Linked DNA regions of Homo sapiens. The protein of the gene in region 1 purifies or fractionates together with the protein of each later gene. This does not show direct contact. Each region holds a gene or a part of one and is shown in the gene's direction. Other genes may lie near its edges.

The links. Proteins that work in one complex are often made in the same cells at the same time.
Region 2: the proteins of SLC8A2 (region 1) and MYO1B purify together in Homo sapiens (affinity purification with mass spectrometry; one large-scale study listed by BioGRID and IntAct). This does not show direct contact.
Region 3: the proteins of SLC8A2 (region 1) and QSOX2 purify together in Homo sapiens (affinity purification with mass spectrometry; one large-scale study listed by BioGRID and IntAct). This does not show direct contact.
Region 4: the proteins of SLC8A2 (region 1) and MYH14 purify together in Homo sapiens (affinity purification with mass spectrometry; one large-scale study listed by BioGRID and IntAct). This does not show direct contact.

Annotation. Positions count from the first base shown.
Region 1 is NC_000019.10:47,469,094-47,473,024, reverse strand, and holds the start of SLC8A2 (sodium/calcium exchanger 2 precursor), read left to right. Parts: upstream 1-1,131; 5' UTR 1,132-1,236; intron 1,237-3,931. UniProt on the Homo sapiens protein: Mediates the electrogenic exchange of Ca(2+) against Na(+) ions across the cell membrane, and thereby contributes to the regulation of cytoplasmic Ca(2+) levels and Ca(2+)-dependent cellular processes.
Region 2 is NC_000002.12:191,416,404-191,419,903, forward strand, and holds part of MYO1B (unconventional myosin-Ib), read left to right. Parts: intron 1-3,500. UniProt on the Homo sapiens protein: Motor protein that may participate in process critical to neuronal development and function such as cell migration, neurite outgrowth and vesicular transport.
Region 3 is NC_000009.12:136,243,013-136,246,992, reverse strand, and holds the start of QSOX2 (sulfhydryl oxidase 2 precursor), read left to right. Parts: upstream 1-1,180; 5' UTR 1,181-1,189; coding exon 1,190-1,517; intron 1,518-3,980. UniProt on the Homo sapiens protein: Catalyzes the oxidation of sulfhydryl groups in peptide and protein thiols to disulfides with the reduction of oxygen to hydrogen peroxide. May contribute to disulfide bond formation in a variety of secreted proteins.
Region 4 is NC_000019.10:50,206,622-50,210,121, forward strand, and holds part of MYH14 (myosin-14), read left to right. Parts: intron 1-3,500. UniProt on the Homo sapiens protein: Cellular myosin that appears to play a role in cytokinesis, cell shape, and specialized functions such as secretion and capping.

The DNA of each region.
Region 1 (3,931 bases):
TGTAGAATCTGGAGCCATATTTACCACCTCATGCCTTGGTTTCCCTGTCTGTAAGTGAAGCTCATAATAGCATTTACCTAAATTTATAAAAAACATTAGAACATGCCAGGTGCGGTGGCTCTCACCTGTGCGGTGGCTCTCACCTGTAATCTCAGCGCTTTGGGAGGCCGAGGCAGAAGGATTGCTTAAGCCCGGGAGTTGGAGACTAGCCTAGGTAAAATAGTGAGACCCCGTCTCTTAAAAAAAATGAAGAGAAAAAAAGCCTGGCGTGGTGGTGGTGGGCACCTGTAGTCCCAGCTACTCGGGAGGCCAAGGCAGAAGGATCGCTTGAGCCCAGGAGTTGGAGACCAGCCTGGGTAACATGGTGAGATCCCATCTCCTAAAAAAAAAAAATGGAGGGAAAAAGCCTGGCGTGGTGGTGGCGGGCACCTGTAGTCCCAGCTACTCAGGAGGCTGAGGCAGGAGGATTGCTTGAGCCCAGGAGGTTGAGGCTGCAGTAAGCCAAGATCGTGCCACTGCACTCCAGCCTGGGTGACAGAGTGAGACCCTGTCTCAAATAATAATAATGTGCTGCCGATGCCAGGCACGTGGTCAGGGCTGCCTGTATGTATGGCAGCTGTTGTTATTCTTATTAATGGGTGTCTTTGTGGTTGTTTCTGGCCTCCTTTGTGAGGCTGTGCAGGCACAGTATGTGAATTTGGATCTGACTCCAGCTAAACATTCTTGCCCTCCCCCTAGTTCTGTAAGTCTGTAACTATTTGTAGCTGTTGGCCCTTGTATGGCTGGGAGACTGCGTGCGTGTGTGTGTGTGCGTGTGTGTGTGTGTGTGTTGGGGGGCGGGGGCTGCTTCTGAAACACACAGGAGCGCCCTCCGGTGCTGTCCCCTGCCTCTGGTGCTGAACCCGGAGGCTGGGGAGGAGGCTCGGGCTCCCTGCTCCCCCAGGCCCCTCCCCGGGCCTCCCCCCGCCTCCCGCACCGCCTTCCCTCTGCCCGCCTCCGCCTCCTCCCCCTCTCTCCGGCTCCTCCCCCTCCCTCGCTCCCTCGCCGCCTCCCCCTCCCCCGTGTCCCTCCCCTCTCCTCTTCTCCTCCCTCTATCCCCTCTCCCTCCCCTCCTCCCCGGCTCTCCCTCTCAGTCTCAGGCTTTTCTCTCTCTCAATCTCTCTCTCTCTTTCGGGCGGAGTCGCCCACCACTGCCAGCCCAGCGCTGGGGGGACCTGCTCCAGGCTGTAGCCGCAGGTAAGAGACCCCATTGGTGGGGAGGTGGGGGCGTGGGAAAAGGACGGGGTTACCCCAGGTGCGGAGTGGGGGCGGTTCGGGAAGCCTGGAGCTGGCTTCCCTGGGCTGGTTTATGGAGGTGGGGGGCTGCCTGGCCCAGCACGCGTACCTTCTGTGGGGTGGGAGTGCCACCAGCCGCCCCAACACCTTCAGTCCCTCCTGGTTCTCGGGCGGCTGGGGAGGGGGACCGCCTGGGTACTGGGGGGCGAGGACACCCCGCCCCCACCCCGTCTGGGGCACCCCCCCTCGCGCTCTCTACCTCTGCCCCCGCCTTCCTGTGTCTGGGTCTCATCTTTCTGTCTCTCCACATGTCTCAGGGGTCTCTGTCTAGCAGAGTCTGGCCGCCTCTGGGAGTCCCTGTCTCTCAGTCTCTCACTCCTGTCTCCCTCTCTCTGTGTCTCTGTGCCGGGGTCTGTTCGGAGTCTCTCTGGGGCTCTGTCTCTAAGTCCTGGGTTTCTCTCTCCTTTCCTCTTGCGCCATCTCTGTTTCTCTGTGTCTCTGTGTCTCTGCCTCTCTCCCTTGTCTCAGCTTTCCTGTGTCTCTCTCTGTCTCTGCTTTCTCTGTGTCTCTGTCTCTTCCCATGTCCGCATGTCTCTCTCTCTCTCTCTCTCTCTCCCTCCCTCCCCATCTCCCCCTCGTCTCCATCTCTGTCTCTGGATATCTCAGTCTCTGTTTCTCTCTCTCTTTCCTCTTCTCTGGCTCTCCCTGGGAGCCAGTGCACCCTCCTCCCACACACCTTTGTCTCCGCCCCTGGCAGGGGGGACCTGGAGGAATTAGACCCCCCCACCCGCAGAGTGGGCTCCCCCAGGCCTGGAGTCCTCTAAACTCCTCTCCCCACTTCAGCAGAGCTCCCCTGCTCTCTCCACTCCTCCCAGCCGGCACCCACCCCAGCTCTCCCCTGAGGACCGAGCCCACCTCCCCCTGCCTTGTTTCTGGCGTTCTGAGGCCGGTCCTTCTTGCAGTTTAACCGGTAGCCTCTGTAGTAGAGATGAGACCAGACCTCCCTTCAATCTAACCTCCCCAGTCTTCCTCGTGTAACTGGACCAGTCCTTCCTGCCGTCTCACTTCCATACCTCTTGCTGTTTGTCCAGCTCTTGATTCATTCATTCTTGTTGATAATTACTGAGCGCCTTTCCTGCTCTGGGCAAGCACTAGGTACTGAGTTAGACCGGGCCAGTCCTTCCTGCAGTCTCACTTCCATCCCTTTCCTGGTGTGCCAGCCTCACACTGTCTCAGTGGGGGGTGCTGAGAGGGCCCTGGCCAACACACTGTCTGCCTTCCTTGAGAGAAGGGGGCCCTGGAGAAGGTGGGCAAGAGAGTGAGTGATGGCGAAAAGGTACGAGGCTGTGCCTGTAGCCCTGGTGTGTGTGTGTGTGTGTGTGTGTGTGTGTGTGTGTGTGTATGATGTCTCCCTGGCTGCAGGTGAGGTCCCAGCCCTGTGTGACAGTGCCCACGGAGGGGGCTTCAGATGGCTTTAAAGAGCACTAGGTTAAGAGCCCTGTTCCTCCTCTGGGCCTCAGTTTACGTATTATCAGTGTATCACAGCCTCGAGCACCCAAGCTCTGTGGTGTGATCCCCACACTGGACCATTTTGAGGTGATGGGAGCGCCTGCGCTCATGCTGGGGCAGTAAATGTGCATGTTTAGAAGTCTGAGTCCCCAGCTCGGTCCTGCAAGGGCCAGCCCCCCAACACAGGCACAGTCAGAAAAGCACCCTCCCTTGCCGCCCCACTGTGGGGTGGTAGCGTGAGGGATATGAAGGACGGGTCTTACCTGGCACGCCAGACTGCACCCACCCCCAGGCATGCAGTCCTGTTCTTCTGATCAAGGACCTAAGAGGCACGTGAGGCAGAACAGGGGTGCTCACTGCCGACCCAGCTGGCCGCACGCCCACGAAGGGAGGGAGAGATGGCCCTGGGAGACGGTACCTGCCATCTGCCCTCCCCGCTCCCACCCTGGGCTCCACCTGATCCTTTTGCCCCTGGATTCTAAAAGCAGATTGGGTTTCAGGGCTGCTGGTGGATGGAGAGGGAGAGGCAGGAGCCAGGAGCAGAGGGAGCCCACGGTCCCTGGTGACAGGGCTCAGACCTCTTGGTCATTCATTTCACAAATATTTATCTAGTGCTTTCTCTCCCTGACTGCTCCTCTCGCAAGGCCCCAGCGAGAAACCAGGTTTTGCAGGAAAAAGGGATTGCACTAGGCTGTGCTTGACCCAGCCCCTGGGCTAGGAGGGTGGACATGAGAACCCGCATCACCTGGCTGTGGTCTCTCTTGAGGACTGCAGCAGGAAGGACAGGTGGTTAAACCTGAGGGAGGACTTCCCAGGCCGAGGCTTCCTCCCAGAGAGAGCGGGGTTTGGTTTGATGCTTTAGAAGAATTCCTGACTCCCGGCTGGCCCCTGTTTCTCCTGAAAGCCAGGGAGGCGGAGGGAGAAGGGAGCATGAGCCTTTGCTTTGGATCCTGGTGGGTTTGTAATTATGCCTAAGTTGTTGCTAATTAGGGGGCTGCTAATTAGACGTATCATTAGGGGCCTTGCTGAGGGGGCTAATTGTGCGGTGGCCCTTTAAGAATCACCCCTCTCCCCCACCCTTGCCTGCACACACACACACACACACACACACACACACACACGCACACAGGCATGCTCCTCGCTTGCT
Region 2 (3,500 bases), on another chromosome or scaffold:
CTCCAACCTCATGTACCTGACATCCTAGTGGAAGAGACCAGTATGTACAAATAAAATGATGAAATAGTTGATAAGATTTTGGCTAACAAGTGTTTATGGAGGAAAAAAAGGGTTAAGAGTCAGAGAGTAGGCCAGGCGCAGTGGCTCACGCCTGTAATCCCAGCACTTTGGGAGGCCGAGGCAGGCGAATCACGAGGTCAGGAGTTCGAGACCAGCCTGGCCAACATGGTGAAACCGTCTCTACTTAAAATACAAAAAAAATTAGCTGGGCGTGGTGGCGGGCGCATGTAATCCCAGCTACTCAAGAGGCTGAGGCAGGAGAATCTCTTGAACCCGGGAGGCGGAGATTGCAATGAGCCGAGATCGTGCCACCGCAATCCAGCCTGGGTGACAGTGTGAGACTCCGTCTCAGAAAAAAAAAAAGAGTCAGGGAGGCCTCTTTGATGTGGTGACATCTGAGACTGGTATAAATTTGAAATTTGCTTCTTCAATTTCTCATTAGGGTTCTGAATATAGAAGTTAGTTATTTGCATACAGGTTGGGGCATCCCCAGATTTATTGTATCTATCTATGTAAGTGTTTTGGAGAAATCTGAGTTACTGTGTTGATTATACTTAATTGGTTACCTTTCAATAGATTGTTTACCTGCTTATATACTTCTTTGCATGTCTAGATTGCTCAGGAAATTATATTCTTTTCTAATTAAGAATTTTCTAGTCTATTCTGTTTCAACTCTTCCTAAAAGTCTTTCTAAAATAAATTTACACCCATTTCTGCCCCTTTGTAAGTCAGACTCTCTTTGATATGTTAGGATTTTGCAGTGCTGTGGGCTTTTCTTAAGTTCTCATTGAAGTGTTTAGATTTGGGTGGGAGGTTGGGCTTCATGTATACTCTATATTGGAAATTGCTGTTCGGACTAAATAACTTTTCTTGTTAATGAGATCTTTCTCATAAAGAAATTAGGAAAAAAATAATGGTTGGTGTGTTTCAGTTAAGGATTTAACACGTTAGGGCCTATTAGAGCTTTAAAATCCCTTTATAATAGTTGAAGTTTTTCATAATCTGGGAGAATGGGCTTTGGTGGGGCTGCTAATTCTCACTCACCATGGGAAGATCGTATGTATCCCAGACAGCAGAAGCTCCTCAGTGTACAGACGAAGCAGTCTCATAGTTGTCCCACTATGTGAATAAACTCATCTTTACACAGAAAGGAAATCACACCAACATCCAGACCACAAAGTACTGCTATTTTTAAGCATTTCCCAAACCGGGATTCTAGGAACATTGCTTGTACAGGATGCTAATAACGATGTACTGTGAAAAAATTGTTCTCTGATGGAAATTTAAAATCTTTCTTCACTACATTACATCTCAGAGTCCCTGAAATCTTGTTGTGATTCTCCTGAGGAGCTTTGCGGGGATAGCGTGTGGCGTGAATCCTAAACATAGTCAACCACAGAGCTCCTTCAGCAGCTCTCACAGCTTGTGTTCGAAGGTGTGCCATCTGGGAAAGGGGGACAGTTCGCTTCTGGGCAGCAAGGGCCCTGCCCTGTCACAGAGGGCGTGTGATGTTCTGGATGCCATAAGCTTTCAGTAAACAGTTGTCTGAGCGAAGATTTATAATGTGGCCACATGAAGAAAACAAACATTGGGTAGCATTATAATGCCTTTCATTCTCCAGTGCCTAATTATTGATTGGTCTCATAAAAATAAAACAGTTCATAGGACTCTACATAGCACCCGTGGGTCCCTTCCCCAGGTGGCACAGGAAGCCTGCAGAGGAAGTTTGTAGGTAAGGATCGTAAATCTCCTTAGGGAGCATTTTGAATTTAAACGAAAATGTCCAAAGTCATAGGCAGGGGCGCCTGTTCCTTTATGTGTCAGCCCTAAGTGGCTTCGCTAGCTCTATAGAACCAGTGTTGAAAACCACATGCAGTTTAGTGACTAAGCCCTTCCTTGCTTTTTCCTTCCCAGAAGTAGAAGTAGTTACTCTAACAAACCTAGATTCTGTAATCATTATGGATAAGTGGATGTCAGTTTATGGAAAGAGAGTCAAAGTCCTGTTTACTCTTTAGTGGATTTTTTTTTTTTTTTTTTTTTTTTGAGGCAGAGTTTCGCTCTTGTTGCCAAGGCTGGAGTGCAGTGGCACGATCTTGGCTCACCGCAACCTCCGCCTCCCGGGTTCAAGGGATTATTCTGCCTCAGCCTCTTGAGTAGCTGGGATTACAGGCATGCACCACCACGCCTGGCTAATTTTGTATTTTTAGTAGAGATGGGGTTTCTCCATGTTGGTCAGGCTGGTCTCGAACTCCTGACCTCAGGTGATCCGCCCCCCTGGGCCTCTGAAAGTGCTGGGATTACAGGCGTGAGCCACCGCGCCCAGCCTGTTCAGTGGAATTTAAACTTGTACATATAGAAGTGAGAATTGAATTCATTCAGAGATTCAGCTGCCTTATAGTTTCTAGTCCTTAAACTTCTAAGCTGTTCAATGTGTAACTAGATTGCATTTTAAGGATAACCTGCAAGATGTGTAATGCAGTTATGCACCACATAATGACATTTTGGTCAGCAATGGATTGCACAGATGACGGTGGTCCCCTAAGATTGTAATGGAGCTGAAAAATTCTTCTGTCTATTGATGTCACAGGTGTTGTAATGTTATAGTGCAAGGCACTACTCACATGTTTGTGCTGCTGCTGGTGTAAACAAACCTACTTCACTGCCAGTTGTCTACAAGTAAAAGCACATACAATTATGTACAATATGTAACTCTTGATAATAAATGATGTTGTTACTGGTTTATGTATTTATTATACTATACTTTTTTTTTTTTGAGACTCAGTCTTGCACTGTTGCCCAGGCTGGAGTGCAGTGGCGTGATCTCGGCTCACTGCAAGCTCCGCCTCCTGGGTTCATGCCATTCTCCTGCCTCAGCCTCCCGAGTAGCTGGGACTACAGCTGCCCGCCACCACGCCCGGCTAATTTTTTGTACTTTTAGTAGAGGTGGGGTTTCATCGTGTTAGCCAGGATGGTCTCGATCTCCTGACCTTGTGATCTGCCCGCCTCAGCCTCCCAAAGTGCTGGGATTATAGGCGTGAGCCACCACGCCCGGCCTATACTGTACTTTTTATCTTTATTTTAGCGTGTATGCCTACATGTTAAAAAAGTTAATAGTAAAACAGCCTCGGGCAGGTCCTTAAGGGGGTATTTCAGAAGGCATTGTTATCTTAGGAGAAGACAGCCCCATGTGTATTATTACCCCTGAAGACTTTCCAGTGGGACAAGACATGGAGATAGAAGACAGTGAAATTGATGCTCCTGACCCTGTGTAGGCCTAGGCTAATATGTTTGTATCTTAGTTTTTAACAAAAAGTTTAAAAAGTAAAAATAAAAAAAATTAAAATTTTAAAAATAGAGAAAAGCTTATAGAATAAGGTTATAAAGAAAATATTTTTGTACAGCTATACAAAGTATTGTGTTTTAAGCTAAGTGTTATTACA
Region 3 (3,980 bases), on another chromosome or scaffold:
TGCCCAAATGCAGGCCAGGGACACTGGGGGCTCGGTTTTGTTCTTGATTTGTCTCCAGGGCTTGGCACAGAGCAGAAGCCAGGAAACGTGGGTGATGGAAGGAAACATGAACAGGGAGACGCAGGACGTGAGGAAAAGGGAGCAGACGCCTTGGCCAGGGGCCCTCTGGGGAGAATCCTCTCATCTGGGGTTAACCATTGTTAGCAGCAAAACCTTTTAAACAAAATCTTACACAGAACCCCACAATACAGTTATCTATTTATTTTGAGACAAGGTCTCGCTCTGTCATCCAGGCTGGAGTGCAGTGGCAGAGTCACGGCTCACTGCAGCCTCAAGCTCCCAGGCTCAAGCCATCCTCCACCTTAGCCCCTCAAGTAGCTGGGACTACAGGTGTGCACCACCATGCCCGGCTTTTTTCTTTTTTTTAAGAGATGGGCTCTCGCTATGTTGCCCAGGCTCGCCCACTCCCTTGTTTTGTTTTGGTCACACAGTTCAGAGAAAATCTTGACATGTGTAAAAATTAGGAATAGGAACAAAAAAAAAAATCAGGTATCCTGTTCAATGAAGCAAAAAAGTCATATGATTTCATTTCCAAACCGTGAAGCTGCATTCGACTGGAACATCCTAAAAGGTAGCACACAACACATCTGACTTTGAGTGGATGTTTTGCTGCATTTTCTAAGCGTTCCAATATCATATTAAAAAGTCGAGGCTGGCTTGCAGACCCTCTGAAGCCCCAGGTGGGGTTGCCAAGTAAAAGAACCCCGGAATAGTTTTTTACGTCTAAGAATGTCTTGTTAAATTTGTATTTCAGGCATGGCACAGACCTAGGCTGAAAAACCGACTCACTGTTTGTCTGAAATTCACGTTGAACCTGGCGTCGTGCACTTCCATTTGCTAAATGTGGCCACCTGGCCCTGTTCAGGGAAGGGGTTTGGGGAACGCGCGGCGGGGTGGGGCGGGGCCTGGGCGGAGCCTGCCGCGCCTGGGCGGGGAGATGGCGTCATCAGACTCTTGGGGGCGGGGCTGCCACGCATGGGCGGGGGCGGGGGCGGGGAGAGAGGGCGGGGTCAGACGTGAGGGGGCGGGGCGGAACAGAACTGGGCGCGCGGGGGCGGGGCCGGGCGCGCCGGCGCACGTGACGGTGGTTGCCAGGGTGAAAGTTCAGCGCGCCGGCGGCACTTCCAACATGGCGGCGGCCGGGGCGGCGGTGGCGCGCAGCCCGGGAATCGGAGCGGGACCTGCGCTGAGAGCCCGGCGCTCGCCCCCGCCGCGGGCCGCACGGCTGCCGCGGCTGCTAGTGCTGCTAGCGGCGGCGGCGGTGGGGCCGGGCGCGGGCGGTGCGGCGCGGCTGTACCGCGCGGGCGAGGACGCCGTGTGGGTGCTGGACAGCGGCAGCGTGCGCGGGGCCACCGCCAACAGCTCGGCCGCGTGGCTCGTGCAGTTCTACTCGTCGTGGTGTGGCCACTGCATCGGCTACGCGCCCACTTGGCGGGCCCTGGCTGGGGATGTGCGAGGTGAGGCGCGCCCCCGCGCGGGGACCCCCCGACCCCCGGGACCGCGGCCTTCCGGGACCCCTTGCGACCGCCCCAGAAGGCGGGTCCCGGGGCCCCTCCCCCGTATTTCTTTCCTTACCGCAGAGCCAGTCCCTGCCCCACAGAGGCACCCGACTCGGACCAACCCTGGCCTTTCCAGGGGCGGGAGACTAAGCCAGCTGCTCCCCATGTCTCTCCCAGTTAATCCCCGTTAGATCCTGACGAGTTGGGCTGTCTGAAGTCAAAATGAAACCATTCTCCCGCAGCCCTCACCGCACGCTTGGGGATAGGGAAGCCCTCCCGTATCCCAGCTCTCAAAATACCTATGTTTTGAGCCCCAAGAACTTCATTGACCTTCCAGGCCTCCTACCCTACCTGTTTCCTAGCGTCCACACACCCCATCCCCAGTGCCCAGAATTCCTGTTCTCTGAGGATCCCTCATTCCTATTCCACACTCGTAGCCACCCCATTCCCTTTGAACCTTCATCATTAACTTTCTGGTTCGGATCGCTGGCCATATAGTGGGTGCTCAAAGTGAACCCACAACTTAGAAGTCCAAATACTCTGGAGACTTCTCTATAATACCCCAAAACAACCTATAAAGCAATTTTTTTAACTCTACAAAGAATTTCATTGGTGGGCTCCTTGATCACAGATGCACAGCCTTTGAGAAATCTTTCACCAAACTGCTGGTAGTGTTCCGCACTTTATTGTTTAGTGCTTTCATCTGGTCGCACGTTGTTAACCAGTCACGAAGTTACTCGCCTGCTCTACAGGTTAGAGTTGGCGTGGGAGGGGGCATTCACAACACCCTTCCCTTAAAATGGTATTTAAATCACTGAAGTAGGAGGTCCTCCCGACCCAGTGAGGTTTGGCAGGACTTCCTGTGTTGTGCTAACCTCAAATTACATGTTTCAGTGGGCAAGATCTGTAACAAATTGCTACTCTTTCTTCCTGCACCTTTGTTTTTATGCCTTACACCCAATCCTGCTGTATTTTTCTCATCGCAAACAGATTTGTAAAGAAACTTTTTTTCAAGTCTAAGTAGGGCTTTTGTATGTTACTGTAAATGGTTATCTTTAAAATGCATTCTCCTCTTAGAGAGCTGGGGCCTTTTGATTCTAATGGATTCCTCCTCTTTGATCTCATGTTTTCTTATGTCCCTGTTGACCTGACTCAGAACTGAGGTCAGAGACTGGAAGAGATGGACAGAAAAACTGTTCAGTGGGGTTTTTAGACACTGCTTTTAGGAAAACAAACAAGTAATTCAATCACGTAGGGAACCCTTCAGTTCTTGTGTGTTATTCAGTGGCAGAAACAGATATGTTCATTAAAATGCAGGTGGCCCTGGCAGGACTTGGTCACTTTTTTTGTGGGTTTTGGTTTTGATTTTTTTTTTTCAGTTGAGTCGCTGAAGTCTAAAGATCGTACCAGATTCAAATATTGCAAATTCTGTAACCGAAGCAGCACATAGGCAGCCTTGAGAACTGTCCCTGGAGCTCAGAAGGAAGGCCCCTCCTGAGAGCCACACAGTAACGTCCATACCCAGTGGTGTGATGAACTCAACTCAGTAAGCCTCCTTTAGTGAGGCTGACTGTCTTCCCAGTCACGACAGGAAGAACAGGCTTGTGCCTGAGACTGAGACTGGAGGAGGATATGGCTGAAAGTGAAAGACAGCGGTGACCTGACCAGGCAGCAGGGAGAGGGCTTCAGGGAGCCCAGGCAGAGGGTCCTGTTGGCTAAAAAGCCAAACTATAAAATACTGAAAGAGGTTTGTTCTGAGCCAATAAGTGTAGTGGCCATGGCCAGGGGAACAGTGTCAAGAGGTCCTAAGAAAGTGTGCTCTAGGCAGTCACGTTAATTTGATTTTATACATTTTAGGGAGACAGAAGTTATAGGCAGAGAGACATAAATCAGTACATGTAAGGTATAGGAAGGGGTAGGTTTACAGATCATAGGTGGATTCTGACTGGCAATTGATTGAAAGAGTTAAGCTTTGTCTAAAGACTTGAAGTCAGCAAAGAGAAATGCTTGAGTTAAGCTAAAGGGGCTGTGGAGGCCAAGGTTAAGTAGATGAAGCCTCACAGGCAGCAGCCTTGGGGAGAATAGAGGGTAAATGTCTCTTTTCAGACCTGAATGCTGTCAGACTCGTTAAATGTCTCCTAGATCCAGGAAAGACCTAGAAAGGGAGGGAGATTCTCTACAGATGCAAATTTCCCTCACAAAAGACAGCTTTGCAGGACCATTTCAAATATGTCAGGGAAATAAATGTATTTGGGGGTGAAATATTTTGATTTCCTGCAGGGTGTGCTATTTGTCATGTGGTGCTGTACCCGAGTCAGGCTGGAGTTTGGTGTCGTTGCTGCTGAGGCTGTGCTGTCTGTCTGTGATCTCTGTTTCATCACGCTGGTCAGCTCTGCCTAAACTCCAAAGGGAGGTGATGTA
Region 4 (3,500 bases), 2.7 Mb from region 1:
GCTTGGGGATGGGAGGAGAGGGTCTGGGAGGAAGTGGGTCCTCTCAGCGGAGCTGGGATTCCCGTGGGAGAGGCTTGAGGGAAAGGCAGGAGTCTGTTGGGACCAGATCCAGGGGGGCCTCCAGGGCAGCTGGGCGTTTAGAAGGACTTCTCCAGGGGTATGTGGGAGCGAGGTGGGGACGGCAGTTGCATATAGGTCTATCGGGCAGAGGTGAAGTCCTGCTGTTGGGGAGACAGAAATCTCCCACTGTTTCTGTGACTGATGTGGTGGGGCAGTGATGGGGACATTTGAGGCAGTGGATGAGAGTAGGGGCCGGGCGTAGTGGCTCATGTCTGTAATCCCAGCACTGTGGAGGCCAAAGCAGGAGGATCACTTGAGCCCAGGAGTTTGAGATCAGCCTGGGTAACATAGGGAGACCCTGTTTCTACCAGAAAAAAAAAAAAAAAAAAAAAAAAAGGCTGGGCCTGATGGTGCGCACCTGTGGTCCCAGCTACTGAGGAGGCTGAAGTGAGAGGATCACTTGAACACAGGAGTTGAGGCTGCAGTGAGCTGTGATTGTGCCACTGCACTCCAACTCCAGCCTGGGCAATAGAGCGAGACCTATCTCTAAGAAAAAAGAGAGAGAGAGAGAGAGAAAGAGAGAGAGAGACAGAGAGAGAGAGAGAGAGAGAGAGAGAGAGAGAGAGAGAGAGACTAGGGGCAGACTTCTTTAGCAGGAGGGGGCCACGCAGCAGGATAGGGAGAATATTTTTCCTGCCTGGTGCTTGGACCGCGTTGGAATTGCCACTACTGCCCATGGCCCGCTGGATGGTGGGAGGGGCCTAACACATTCTAGTTCCCCCAGCACCTGGTTGCCTCCGAGATAGCTGGAGCTGGATCCACCCCTAGGCCAGGAGCTCCTCCAGGCAGGGCTCCCAGCCTACTCTTCTCTGGGTCCTCAGGCCCACTCGGGGCGGAGTCTCGTACTTGAAAGTCCTCAGAGAGTTGAATGAATGGGTCCAGTCTCCCCATTTTATGGAGAAGGAGTCAGGTTCCAGAGAAGGAAGGAATTGTTCACTGAAGCAGTGAGATTCGAGTCTATTCTGCAGGCATGAGATAGGCGTGACCAGAGGTGGTCAGGGAACCTGAATGACAAAAATCAGGTCAATTCCCACCCTGGGCTCATATCTTAGAGTAAAAGCAAGGTTGTACCTTTTGTCCCCTCTCTTACATCCCCTCCCACCCTCTGCCCCTCGATCATTTGGCTCTAGCCATGCTGCCTACCTCACAGTGACACAGCCACACAGATGCATTGTGGCCCCAGGACCTTTGCACTGCTGTCTGGAATGATTTTTCTCCCAACAACCCCCTTCCTCGCTCCTGTCATCTCCCTTGGGTCTTCATTTAAATGCCACACCAGAGAGGCCCTCCCTGGCCACCCTAATGAAAACTTCAACATCCTCAACCCTAACATTTCCTGTCCCCTGGTTTATTCCTCCCCTTGGTATTTATCACCATTTAATGTACTATCTGGCCGGGCATGGTGGCTCGTGCCTGTAATCCCAGCACTTTGGGAGGCCCAGGCGGGCGGATCACCTGAGGTTAGGAGTTTGAGACCAGCCTGGCCAACATGGTGAAACCCCATCTCTACTAAAAATACAAAAATTAGCCAGGCATAGAGGCATGCGCCTGTAATCCCAGCTACTTGGGAGGCTGAGGCAGGAGAATCTCTTGAAACCGGGAGGCAGAGGTTGCAGTGAGCCAAGATCAAGCCACTGCACTCCAGCCTGGGTGACAGAGCAAGACTCTGTCTCAAAAAACAAAAACAAACAAACAAACAAACAAACAAACAAACAAAAAAACCCAACAAACCCACCAAACATACCATATTTGGTTTCTGTAAAAAAATAAAAAAGAGAGAGAGAATTTTTAAAAAACAAAAACCATACTATCTAATTTACATTTTTAATCTTTTTATCTGTCTCCTGGGATTACAGCAGCTCTGTCAAATAGCAATATAATACAGGCCAGATGTGTAATGTAACATTTTCTAGTAGCCACATTTAATGATAAAAGTAAAAAAGGAACGGGTAACATTAATTTAATGATATATTTTATTTAACCCAGTAGATTGAAAATATTATCATTTCAGCATGTCATCAAATATTTAAAATCTCAGCAAACTATCTTTTTGTTGTACTAAGTCTTGGAAATCTGGTGTGTATCTTACACTTAGAACTCCAGATGGGGATATTTATATTTAAATTTTAAGATGGGGCTCGGTGGCTCACACCTGTAATCCCAGTACTTTGGGGAGCCAAGGCAGGAGGATCGCTTGAGCCCAGGAGTTTGAGACCAGTCTGGGCAACATAGAAGACCCTGTCTCTACAAAACAAATTTAAAAATTAGTAGGCATGGTGGCATGCCTGTTAATACATTTATTTTTTAATTAATAAATTTCAGACATGAATCACCTGAGGCTGGGAAGTCAAGGATGTGGTGAGCCGTGGTTGTACCACTGCACTCCAGCCTGAGCAACGGAGTGAAACCTCATCTCAAAATAAAATAAAATAGATTGAATTTAAATGAATGAAATTGAAAATGTGTTTCCTCAGTGACACATGCCACATTGCAAGTACCCGGTAGTGCACAGGTGGTGGTGGCTTCTGCAGTGGACAGCCCGGGGCTAGAAAGTAAACTTTTGGAGGCAGGCGTCTTCTTCCAGCTTGTCTGTTGCTCCATTGTCAGTGCCCAGAACTGAGCCTGGCCAGGAGTGGTGGCTCACGCCTGCAATCCCAGCACTTTGGGAGGCTGAAGAGGGTGGATCACCTGAGGTCAGGAGTTCAAGACCTGCCTGGACAACATAGTGAGACCCTAATTTCTACAAAAATTGAAAATAATTGGCCAGGCGCGGTGGCTCACACCTGTAATCCCAGCACTTTGGGAGGCCGAGGCGGGCAGATCACCAGGTCAGGGGATCGAGACCAACCTGGATAACACAGTGAAACGCTGTCTCTACTAAAAATAGAAAACAATAGCCGGGTATGGTGGCAGGCGCCTGTAGTCCCAGCTACTCAGGAGGCTGAGGCAGGAGAATGGCGTGAACCCAGGAGGCGGAGCTTGCAGTGAGCCGAGATCGTGCCACTGCACTCCAGCCTGGGCGACACAGTGAGACTCCATCTCAAAAAAAAAAAAAAAAGAAAATAATTAGCCGGGGCCGGGTGTGGTAGCTCATGCCTATAATCCCAGCACTTTGGGAGGCCGAGGCAGGCAGATCACCTGAGGTCAGGAGTTCGAGACCAGCCTGGCCAACATGGTGAAACCCTGTCTCTACTAAAAATACAAAAATTAGCTGGGCGTGGTGGCAGACGCCTGTAATCCCAGCTACTTGGGAGGCTGAGGCAGGAGAATCACTTGAACCCTGGATGCCGAGGTTGCAGTGAGCTGAGATCACGCCATTGCACTCCAGCCTGGGCAACAAGCGAGACTCCGTCTCAAAAAAAAAAAAAAAAAAAAAAAAA